Linked DNA regions of Homo sapiens. The protein of the gene in region 2 purifies or fractionates together with the protein of the main gene of each other region. This does not show direct contact. Each region holds a gene or a part of one and is shown on either strand. Other genes may lie near its edges.

What was found.
Region 1: the proteins of RAB3IL1 (region 2) and PPFIA3 purify together in Homo sapiens (affinity purification with mass spectrometry; 3 studies listed by BioGRID and IntAct, with this or other methods). This does not show direct contact.
Region 3: the proteins of RAB3IL1 (region 2) and TMEM102 purify together in Homo sapiens (affinity purification with mass spectrometry; 4 studies listed by BioGRID and IntAct, with this or other methods). This does not show direct contact.

The regions. Positions count from the first base shown.
Region 1 is NC_000019.10:49,129,424-49,133,167, reverse strand, and holds part of PPFIA3 (liprin-alpha-3), read right to left. Parts: coding exon 3,714-3,744; intron 3,176-3,713; coding exon 3,101-3,175; intron 2,791-3,100; coding exon 2,569-2,790; intron 168-2,568; coding exon 21-167; intron 1-20. UniProt on the Homo sapiens protein: May regulate the disassembly of focal adhesions. May localize receptor-like tyrosine phosphatases type 2A at specific sites on the plasma membrane, possibly regulating their interaction with the extracellular environment and their association with substrates.
Region 2 is NC_000011.10:61,915,684-61,919,427, reverse strand, and holds the start of RAB3IL1 (guanine nucleotide exchange factor for Rab-3A), read left to right. Parts: upstream 1-1,861; 5' UTR 1,862-2,060; coding exon 2,061-2,071; intron 2,072-3,744. UniProt on the Homo sapiens protein: Guanine nucleotide exchange factor (GEF) which may activate RAB3A, a GTPase that regulates synaptic vesicle exocytosis. Promotes the exchange of GDP to GTP, converting inactive GDP-bound Rab proteins into their active GTP-bound form.
Region 3 is NC_000017.11:7,433,452-7,437,195, forward strand, and holds the start of TMEM102 (transmembrane protein 102), read left to right. Parts: upstream 1-1,983; 5' UTR 1,984-2,245; exon of another isoform or gene 2,246-2,401; 5' UTR 2,402-2,420; coding exon 2,421-2,634; intron 2,635-2,742; coding exon 2,743-3,744.

The DNA.
Region 1 (3,744 bases), on a different chromosome or scaffold from region 2:
CCTCCCGGCCGCGCCCCCACCTGCCGATACAACGACTCCTTGCTAGCTAACTCGTTCTCCAGTTTGTCGTTGGCGTCGTGCAGAGACGTGGCCTCCCGCTGGGCGCTCAGGTAGCGCTTCTCCAGTGTTGTAATCCGCTCCTCCATATCTTCCCGCTGCGCCAGCGCCTGCGGAGGTAGCAAAGGGCCCCGTGGACTGCGAGCCCCTGGGGGAGAGGACGGGGAACCCCCTTGTTCCCTGGGAAACAAAGTGCCCTGACATGGGAGTCAGAATGGTGGTGTCACACCCGCTAAGAGCTCCCAGGACTAGCCCATCTTAAGTCCCTGCCACCTACCTGCGAGTTAAAATGGTGATGCTACACCTCCCATGAGCTTCTAGGACACTGCAGGCTCAGATCCTCCAGGTTCAGAGGATCTGAGGCCTGTGGGATGTGAAGTCTCCACTCCAGCCCTCTCCTCAAAACCCAGGCCTTGGATTTCTCACTAATTTCTGGCATAGAGCAGACTTAGAATCAAACAGCAAGTGTCCTGGGGTCTCATGGGAAATAAGGATCCCTTCTACCTAGAAGGCAACACCTCTCAAGAGCTACCAGGGTACCAGAGGCCTAGAACCCCAAAAGAAGTGCTTCAACTTCTTATGGGAGATGGACCCTCATCTGGTAGCCCACGTGGTGGGGCTACATTTCCCAATAGCCCCTGCGGCTATCCAGGCTTAAAATCCCAGATGAAGGTTCTCTCTCTCTCTTTCTTTTTTTTTTTTTTTTTTTTTTTTTTTTTTGAGAGAGAGAGTCTTGCTCCGTCACCCAGGCTAGAGTGCAGTGGTGCGATCTCGGCTCACTGCAACCTCCACCTCCTGGGTTCAAACGATTCTCCTGCCTCAACCTCTCAAGTAGCTGGGATTACAGGCACCCGCTGCCATGCCTGGCTAATTTTTGTATTTTCAGTAGAGACGGGGGTTTCACGATGTTGGCCAGGCTAGTCTTGAACTCCTGACCTCAGGTGATGTGCCTGCCTTGGTCTCCCAAAGTGCTGGGATTACAGGCATGAGCAACCAGCACTCTGGCTGGAGTGCAGTGGTACGGATCTCGGCTTACTGCAACTTCCACCTCCCAAGCTCAAGTGATTCTTATGCCTCAACTTTTTTTTTTTTTTTTTTTTTGAGACGGAGTCTCGCTCTGTTGCCCGGGCTGGAGTGCAGTGGCACTATCTCGGCTCACTGCAAGCTCTGCCTCCCGGGTTCACGCCATTCTCCTGCCTCAGCCTCCCGAGTAGCTGGGACTACGGGCGCCCGACATCACGCCCGGCTAATTTTTTGTATTTTTAGTGGAGACGGGGTTTCACTGAGTTAGCCAGGATGGTCTTGATCTCCTGACCTCGTGATCCGCCCGCCTCGGCCTCCCAAAGTGCTGGGATTACAGGCGTGAACCACCGCACCTGGCATGCCTCAGCCTCTCTAGTGGCTGGGACTAAAGGCACCCACCACCACGCCCGGCTAATTTTTTTTTTAAGTAGTGACGGGGTCTCGCTATGTTGCCCAGGCTAGTCCTAGTGCTCACTCTTCTTTCTCATCCACTGCCTTCAAGAATCCAGGTCCACATTTCCCAGCAGCTCCCTGGGGTCACTGGGATTAGGATAAAGCGGCCTAAGCCAGAAAGGGGTGAAATACCCACAAAACATTCCATTTAGAGGCTGGACGCAGTGGCTCACACCTGTAATCCCAGCACTTTGGGCCGAGGCGAGCTGATCACTTGAGGTCAGGAGTTCGAGACCAGCCTGGCCAATATAGTGAAACCCCATTTCTACTGAAGATACAAAAAAAAAAAAAAAAAAAAATTAGCCAGGTGTGGTGGTGCACACCTGTAGTCCCAGCTACTAGGGAGGCTGAGGCAGGAGAATCGCTTGAACCTGGGAGGCAGAGGTTGCAGTGAGCCAAGATCCCGACACTGCACTCCAGCCTGGGCGACACAGCTAGACTCCATCTCAAAAAAAAAAAAAAAAAAAAAGAGGCTGGGTGCGGTGGCTCACTACTGTAATCCCAACACTTTGGGAGGCCGAGGTGGGCGGATCAAGAGTTCAAGACTAGCCTGGCCAACATAGTGAAACCCCATCTCTACTAAAAATACAAAAAAAAAAAAAAAAATTAGCGGTGCATGGTGGCAGGTGCCTGTAGTTCTAGCTACTTGGGAGGCTGAGGCAGGAGAATCTCTTGAACCCGGGAGGCAGAGGTGGCAGTAAGCCAAGATCACGCCACTGCACTCCAGCCTGGGCGACACAGCCAGACTCTGCCTCACAAAAGAAAAAAAAAATCCATTTAGAGGCACCAGAGAAGAACCCAAAGTTAGGTAACAAAGTAATTACGAGCAGTTATGGAGCGCCTACTCTGCGCCACAGGCTCACCCTCTGATGAGAATCATACATTTCCTTTCACAGGTGGGAAAACTGAATCTCAAAGAGGAGTCACCCAGCCTGTGGACTGAATCGAGGTTCCGCCATTCATGAGCAATGCGCGAGGGAGAGCTCTACGGAAAGGCGAGGGACCCAGGGCAGCCCGCCTCCCTGGGGGCCTCACCTCCTTGAGGTCGCGCTGCAGCTTGGAGTTGGCTTCCTCTGCCTTGCCCAGCTCACGGTGCGCGGTGCCCAACTCCTCCTCCAGCTGGCTCATCTGACGGCACAGCACCGCCAGGCGCTCCCGCAGCTGGCACACCTCGGCGCGCTGCCGCTCCAGGGCCTCCTCCAGCTCTGCTGTGCGCCGGTTGGAATCCCCGCCAGGACCCAGGCCATTGGCAAGAGTCTGGAGTGAGGGAAGGAGGGGACAAGATCCCAGAGTGTCTCCGGAGACACAGAGGAAATCCAAGGAGAAAGTCAATCAGCTGAAAGTAGATCAAAGATCAATAAGGATCATGCTGGTCAGAGTCCACGGGGGTCAGTGAAGGAGGTCACAGAAGTTCGCTAGGTGACCTGAATCAGAGGTCCAAGCTCTGTGACACTCTTACAGGTGCAGCCGTCTTAGGGCCAGTGAGGATGATACCAAACGTTACAAACACTATCACAAAGTCAGGGAGTTGAATGGAGCTCACGGAGAGGGGACTTCCATGTCTCACCTGCCCATCCCCATCCTTGCCCGGCTCTTCCAGCCCTGACCGCCGCCTAGACAGCTGTTCTCGAAGGTTCAGAGTCTGGAAGTGTGAAAGGGGAATCAGAGCACAGGGGCTCCCTGAACCCCCAGCTCTAGTTCTCACTGGCATTGGCCCTCTAAGGGGATAGGCGGCCCCATATGAGATGCCTCCGGTCGTGCTGGGGCCATGCCTACCCCACGGTTTACCCTTAGGCTCCCTCCCTCCTTATATCCCTCCTTAGCTGCCACCACGGAGGGCGTCTACCCTTACTCTTCCCCTTAGCCTCCTGGACAAAGTTTCCGCTTTAGCCCCGCTTTTCCCCATTCAATCACTTCCTCCTTAGTCCCAGCCTGAGCCCCAGCCCCTGGTTCTACCCTTAATCTCACTCTCACTGGGAGATTCTCCCCGTAGCCCTGCGCAATGCGTGCCCACTTAGGAACCCCACTGGTTTCTCTCCATAGTCCAACCCCATAGCTTGTCTGCCCTAGTCCTGCCCCAATAGATTCTCTCTGGAACCCACCCAACCGGCTCCGCCCCGTGGGCAGCCCCTTAGCCCCTCCCCTTGGATTCAAATTCCCTGTCTTGGCCACACCCACACCTCCTGATTGCTCAGTTCCAGCTCCTCCTCG
Region 2 (3,744 bases):
GGTCCTCCCTACTGGGGGAGGCAGTGAGCCCTAGGAGTCCATGGTAGCAGGAAGCATGGATGACAGGCTATTTTTGGTTAGAAATTGAGTGTGGATGCTTCCAGAGTGGTGACCACAGACTTGTCCTTCAAGACCTCGCTCAAGGGCCTCCCCGGTCCACCAGACCTCCCAGGCTGAGGACTCTTCCTCCAGGGACATAGCCCTGAGCTGACGCCTCCTCCACCCTTTATCTCCCACTGGTCTGGGTTGCCATGACTTATCTCCTGCCGGGGCTTGTGAAGACTTGGAGGGCAAGGGCCCTGTGCTGGGTTCCTTTTGTGTCATTTTCTCCTCCTTCTCTAAATAGTGAACAAAATAAGGGCCAGGAAGACAACAGTTGCTCAAGACCAACTGATGAGGGATTCAAGCCAGCAAACACATGTGGACATCTGCTTTGGGTGGGCCAGACCCTGAGCTGGGCTGGGGGTGGGGTAGGGGAACATAGCTCCAAGAAAGAGAGAATCCCTGCCCTCTGGAAGCCGTGGCCATGGAAACAACTGCCCTGCTGAGTGATGGCTATGGGACGCCTGGGCTGAATGATTCTAGAAAGTTGGAAGGGATGCTATGGAGAACTGCCTAGGTTGTTCACTGCACAAAGTGCTGGCCAAGGGAGCAAGCAAGGCATAGAATCCAGCCTCGCCTCCACTCTCCAGATTCCATACCTTGCTGTGCGCTGTGCCCAGCGGGGAAAGAGCATTGTCTATTTGTGCCCTGGACGTGGAGGTCTTAGAGAATACGTCCCCCATCCTCCATCCTCCACCAACGTGGAGCCCCAGGAGGGCAGAACCTATGTCTGTACAGTTTCCTGCTGGGTCCCCAGCCCCTTGCATGCCCCATAGTCTATGCTCAGATGGAGTGGCTGAATGTATGAATGAGTAGAATGAATGAATAAAATGTATCCTCAAACGAAGATCTGACTAACTTGAGCCTGCGGCCTGAGTCAGTGGGCCTGGAGGGGTAGCACTGGGACCTCTGGTAGCACCTAGAAGGGGAAGTACCTCCCACCACGCTCCCAGTCCTCCCCTAGACAGGGAAGGTGGGAGCCATGGTACCTGGCGGGAGAGAAGACGGGTTCTGCTCTTACTGGTCCAGTCCCAGGCTGAAGTTGAGACGAATGATCAGGACTCAGAATGGGTGGGACAGAGGAACTGAGGGACAGGTAGACCAGTCGTCTGGGATTCAGGGAAGGTTTCACGGAGGATGTGGGACCAGACAGGTGTGTGTATGTGTGTGTGTCGGTGGGGGTGGGGTGGGGAATACTATCCAGAGGGCAGATGGTGAGTAAAGGCAGGGATGGGCAGAGCGTGTTAAGTGGCAGGAGGCTGAGTGAGGAGAGTTGGACCAGAAGTGGAAACTCCTTCGGGATAAAACTCAGAGAGTAGGACTCAGAAAACTTGTTTCGGGTTTGTCCCCTCCCCTTCCCAGCAGGCAGGATGTTGCACAGGGACAGGCACTAAGCAGACAGCCTAGGGAAGGAGGGCCGGGTGAGGAGGGGGGAGGGTGTCTGCTGGCCTTAAGTGACAATCTGTGTGAGAATCGAAGAGCTGAGAGCTCGGGAGCCATTGTAGGTTCTTGAGCAGGGGTGGCCCAAAGTGGGTGGTGCGGAGGGCGACTGGAGAGGAGGAGTCAGCTGGGGAGTCTGAGCGCGGCGCGGCCCGCGGGATGTTGGGGGCCGGGTTCCCTCCGAGCGCCGTGGTCTCCCTGTCCCGGCGCGGCGGGCCGGGTGGGGCCAGGCCTTGGGAGCGCGCGCCGGATCCCAGCGCCGGGCCGGCGGAGGGGCGGGGCCGGGCACGTGTCCTCGGGCCGCTCCCCCCTCCGCCACGTGACCCGCCCAGGGCAGGGTCGGGGCTGGGCTGGGGGCCGCGAGCCCAGGCGTCTGAGACCTACTGACCGGCCGCGGGCAGGGCTGACAGGCGGTGGGGCGGCTCGGCCCCTGGCGGAGTCGGCGGCGGGCGGGGACGCGGCGCTGGGAGGACGCGGCGGCGCTGGGAACGGACGCCTGGGCGCCCCGAGGCGCCGGGATGTGGAGCGGGTAGGTCCGCGCGCGCTCGCGGTCCCGCGCTGGGTCTGGGCCGCGGTCGCCTCCCGGGACGGGAGGATTTCGGGGGTCCCCGCCGGGTCTGCGCCGCCACCCGGAGGTGCTGTGCGCCCCCGCCCTGCCTGCAGGCGAGCCGACTTGCAGCCAGGAGACTCCGGGGGAGGGGTCGGGGGTGTCTCTCGGGGTGCAGGGTGCGAAGGGTGGGCAGCCGACCGTCCCGGGGTGACAGCGTCAACTCCTCTTAGCTCATCAGGAGCGCAAGTGAGAAGAGTTGGGGTGTGGGGAAGAGTGTGCACGACTCTGGGGCATGCACCTAGAGGAAGGACCCCCAGCCCACCCTCCCAACCTGTCCCTCAACCCCTTCGCTGGATGAACTCTTGGAAAGCAGTGTAGCTGGGAAAGAGGGGCTGGGTCTTTGCCAGGGTGGCTCCCAAGTTGAGGGCAGAACCTCCTTGTGGGGCTCTGGAAGTACGGAGGCTCTCAGAGGTGTGGAGTGGGAACCCCCCCCGCCCCGGCCCCGCAGCCTGGAGTGGGGTAGCAGAGACTCTGGGTCCTGGATTAGTGGCCCCAGTGGCTGTGTCTGTTCAGGCCACTGGTTCTCAGGGGCAGTTGCAGTTCCTGGCCCATCTGATGTGGGACCCCTGCCCTGTATGTGCAGAAAGGTTGTGGTGTTTTTGTGGAGTTGGGCAAACACTTCCTCTTCCCCGTGGCCGGGAAAGACCAGGTCGTGGAGGAAATGTGGCCAGAATGGGGGACAGGTTGTACTCCTGTGCCCCCTGGGCCAGATGAGTGGTCCCAGGAGAGGGCTACTGCCCAGCTACAGCTGGGGAGTGAGGGAAGCCCCCCGGAAAGGCAGGCAGGATCCACTTCACTCCATGGCACCTAGCAAAGGTTGAGCTGCGATGCTAGGGGAGGGATGGCCTTTCATCCCCAGCAGGGGGTGTGGAGAGAGTGGGCTCCTGTTAGGGGTGAGGTGTGGAGAGGCTTGGGACTTTTTTTTTTTTTGAGACGGAGTCTTGCTCTGTCACCCAGGCTGGAGTGCAGTGGCGAGATCTCAGCTCACTGCAACCTCCGCTGCCTGAGTACAAGCAATTCGCCTGACTCAGCCTCCTGAGTAGCTGCGACTACAGGCACACACCACCACACCCGGCTAATTTTTGTATTTTTAGTAGAGACGGGGTTTCACAATATTGATCAGGCTGGTCTCGAACTCCTGACCTCAGGTGATCCACCAGCCTCAGCCTCCCAAAGTGCTAGGATTACAGGCTTTTACCACCACGCCCTGCCCTAAGACTTGAGACTCTTTTTTTTTTTTTTTTGAGACAGAGTGTCACTCTGTCGCCCAGGCTGGAGTGCAGTGGCGCGGCTCAGTGCAAGCTCCACCTCCCAGGTTCACACCAGTCTCCTGCCTTAGCTTCCCGAGTAGCTGGGACTACAGGCGCCCGCCACCACGCCCAGCTAATTTTTTTGTGTTTTTAGTAGAGACAGGGTTTCACCATGTTAGCAAGGATGGTCTCGATCTCCTGACCTTGTGATCCGCCCGCCTCAGCCTCCCAAAGTGCTGGGATTACAGGTGTGAGCCACTGCACCCGGCCTGGGCTTGAGACTCTTAAAGGGAGAGAGTTGAAGGCCACTAGTGTATTTGTTGGCATTGTGCTTGGAGGAAG
Region 3 (3,744 bases), on a different chromosome or scaffold from region 2:
GGCTCACTGCAACCTCTGCCTCCCAGGTTCAAGCAAGCGATTCTCCTGCCTCAGCCTCCTGAGTAGCTGGGATTACATGCGTGCACCACCACGCCCAGCTAATTTTTGTCTTTTTAGTAGAGATGGGGTTTCACCATGTTGGCCAGGCTAGTCTCGAACTCCTGACCTCAAGTGATCCACCCGCCTCGGCCTCCCAAAGTGTTGGGATTACAGGCGTGAGCCAGGGCGCCTGGCCACATTATCTACATTTCAAGTGCTCAACAGCCACAGGTGGCTGCTGGTGGCTACTGTATCAGACAGGACCAACTCAGGACATTGCTATCGTCACAGAAAATTATATTGGAGAGCCATGCTTTAGAGTTTAGAGGAACTATTCCTTGTCACCCATTCTTAACATCTTCAAAGCTTCCACAGAGTCCAGAGAACTTAGTTCTTTTTAGAGTGCCTCGGAAGCCACCCTCTGGGAAGGAGGTGAGATGCAGGGATGTCTGATGCCTGGTTACTCCAGACTGTGAGAAACAGCCCAGTCTCCAGTTCTCCTGATCTGGCCTCTTGGGTCACAGCCAGATGTGTGTGTACGGGAACCTACTTGCGCAGTTCTGGGCTGCTTTGGTGCTCTCGCTTCTCCCAGGGACCCCAGCTCTGGTTGCTGAAGGAGAAAACTCTCTGTCAGTGACGAGGAACCCCTGAGTCCTGGGCTTGCCAAATTGATCTCTACAGTTGGGGAGTCTCTTCTTTTACAGGCCTCTAATTTTCCTAGATGTCCTCCTTAATTATCTTATCCATGGACTTAGGCCTATCCCGTCCTGGAGACAGACCAAGGGCAGAAGGAATGTAAGAAGTCGTGGCCCAGGCCGGGTGCAGTGGCGCGTGCCTATAATCCCAACACTTTGGGAGGCCGAGGTGGGAGGATCACCTGAGGTCAGGAGTTCAAGACCAGCCTGGCCAACATGGTGAAACCCTGTCTCTACTAAAAATACAAAAAATTAGCCAGGTATGGTGGCAGGCGCCGTAATCCCAGCTTCTCGGGAGGCTGAGGCAGGAGAACTGCTTGAACCCGGGAGGTGGAGGTTGCAGTGAGCGGAGATTGCGCCACAGCACTCCAGTCTGGGCAACAGTGCGAGACTCAGTCTCAAAAACAAAACAAAACAAAACAAAAATTTGAGATCCCAAAGTGTTTTCCCTGCCACGACTCAGGTAGCAGTGAGCTGAGGTGGGCATCACTAACATGTATGTCTCTCCTATGAGTCAAACGTCCATTTCTGGGTCACCATCTGTGTGCTCCTGCCTAACACTACCACTTTTGGGATTCCAAGATGCACCCCCCCCACCCCACCCAGGCAGGGGTCCCTATCTCTCCCCAGGCCCTAGGGTGGAGTTTCGCTCTTATCACCCAGGCTGGAGTGCAATGGCACAATCTCAGCTCACTGCACCCTTTCCCTCCTAGGTTCAAGTGATTCTCCTGCCTCAGCCTCCTAAGTAGCTGGGATTACAGGCGTCTGCCACCACGCCCGGCTAATTTTTGTATTTTTAGTAGAGACAGGGTTTCGCAATGTTGGCCAGGCTGGCCTTGAACTCCTGACCTCAGGTGATTCACCCGCCTCAGTCTCCCAAAGTGCTGGGGTTACAGGCGGGAGCCACCGCGCCCGGCCCATCCCTCATTATTTTTTGCGACTCAGAGCCATCCTATTACCCCTCTCAAACCCCAAGGAATGTTTGAGTGGGGTTGATATGGGTGTGAAAAGACACAGAATAATCTGTCTCCAGAGGAACTACAACTTCCATCAGGCACTACTTCAGCGGAACAGGAAAGGATGTGGGGGCGTGGCTACCACGCCCTAGTAGAGCGGGAAACTACAACTCCCAGGATAACGCGGGATTTCAGCAGGGCCAAAAGAGTGATTGAGCTCTGACTGGCGACCCGACCCGGCGGAAACCACCTCGACAGCCTCCAGAAAGGGGCGTGGCTGAAAATGTAGGGGCGTGGCCACGTGGGCATCAGGAAGAAGTAACCTGTTGAATCTATTTCTGCTCCCCACCCTTACTGCTTCCCATAAGGGGGAAGCCGCAGACTAATAAGCCTCTTCCAAAAAAGAGGTAAAGGGAGGTAGACAAGGGGCGGCAGCGGAGGCTGGCTACTGCATTCCGTAGGAGGAGCCAACAGTTACTTTTTACCTGCTGAGTCCGGTGAACCAGTTCATGGGGGCGGGGACCTGCCTATGAGAAAAGGGCCAGGATAGAAGAGGTATTTATTTGTTCATTTTGAGGACTAAATTTAGAACCCATCATCTACAGACCCATTTGTAGGTTGTGTCTGGGGCACTCGCTCGGCCTCAGGAAGAGGGAAGAACGGGGACGACTTTGTGGCAGCAAAGCCACCTCCCTTCCGTGTTTTCCGCAGCCCAAAGCGATAGAACCGCATGGCTTCCGCAGTCTGGGGGAGTGCCCCCTGGTGGGGCCCGCCGCCCCCGGCCCCAGCTCGGCCGCTCACGGACATCGACTTCTGCTCCGGGGCGCAGCTGCAGGAATTGACCCAGCTGATCCAGGAGCTGGGTGTGCAGGAGAGCTGGAGTGACGGGCCCAAGCCGGGAGCCGATCTCCTCCGGGCCAAGGACTTTGTCTTCTCTTTGCTTGGTAAGTAACCCTACTTGCCTTTGGGAACTCACAGCTCTCAGCCTCACCACGCCCCCGCCCCCGCCCCGGCTTTGGGCGACGCCCTCACGATCCGTTCCCTTTTTTTAGGTCTAGTTCACCGCCGGGACCCTCGCTTTCCTCCCCAGGCAGAGCTCTTGCTGCTTCGTGGTGGGATTCGCGAGGGCTCCCTGGATCTGGGGCATGCACCCCTGGGTCCCTACGCCCGGGGACCTCACTACGATGCCGGCTTCACACTCCTAGTGCCCATGTTTTCACTGGACGGCACTGAACTGCAACTGGACCTGGAATCCTGTTACGCACAGGTCTGCCTCCCAGAGATGGTGTGCGGAACCCCCATCCGGGAGATGTGGCAGGATTGCTTAGGACCCCCAGTCCCAGGAGCACGTGATTCGATCCACCGAACGGAGAGCGAAGAAAGTTCCAAGGACTGGCAAAGCTCTGTAGACCAGCCGCACAGCTACGTCACTGAGCACGAGGCGCCGGTGTCTTTGGAAAAATCGCCTAGTGACGTTTCAGCGTCCGAGTCGCCTCAGCATGACGTCGTCGACCTTGGCTCTACCGCACCTTTGAAAACAATGAGTAGTGACGTCACCAAGGCAGCCGTCGAAAGCCCAGTCCCAAAGCCGTCGGAGGCTCGGGAAGCGTGGCCCACATTATGTTCCGCCCAGGTGGCTGCCTGGTTCTTTGCTACGCTGGCGGCGGTCGCCGAGTCTCTGATCCCTGTCCCGGGTGCTCCGCGTCTGGTGCACGCAGCTCGCCACGCGGGTTTCACCACCGTCCTCCTGGCTACCCCTGAGCCCCCTCGCCGCCTCCTGCTCTTCGACCTGATCCCAGTGGTGTCCGTGGCGGGCTGGCCCGAGGGGGCTCGGAGCCACTCGTGGGCCGGTCCGCTGGCCTCTGAGTCGGCTTCCTTCTACCTGGTGCCCGGTGGCGGCACCGAGCGGCCGTGCGCCTCCGCCTGGCAGCTCTGTTTTGCCCGCCAGGAGCTGGCGCTCAAAGCGCGCATACCAGCGCCGCTGCTGCAGGCGCACGCGGCGGCCCAGGCGCTACTGCGCCCGCTGGTGGCCGGGACCCGGGCGGCGGCGCCCT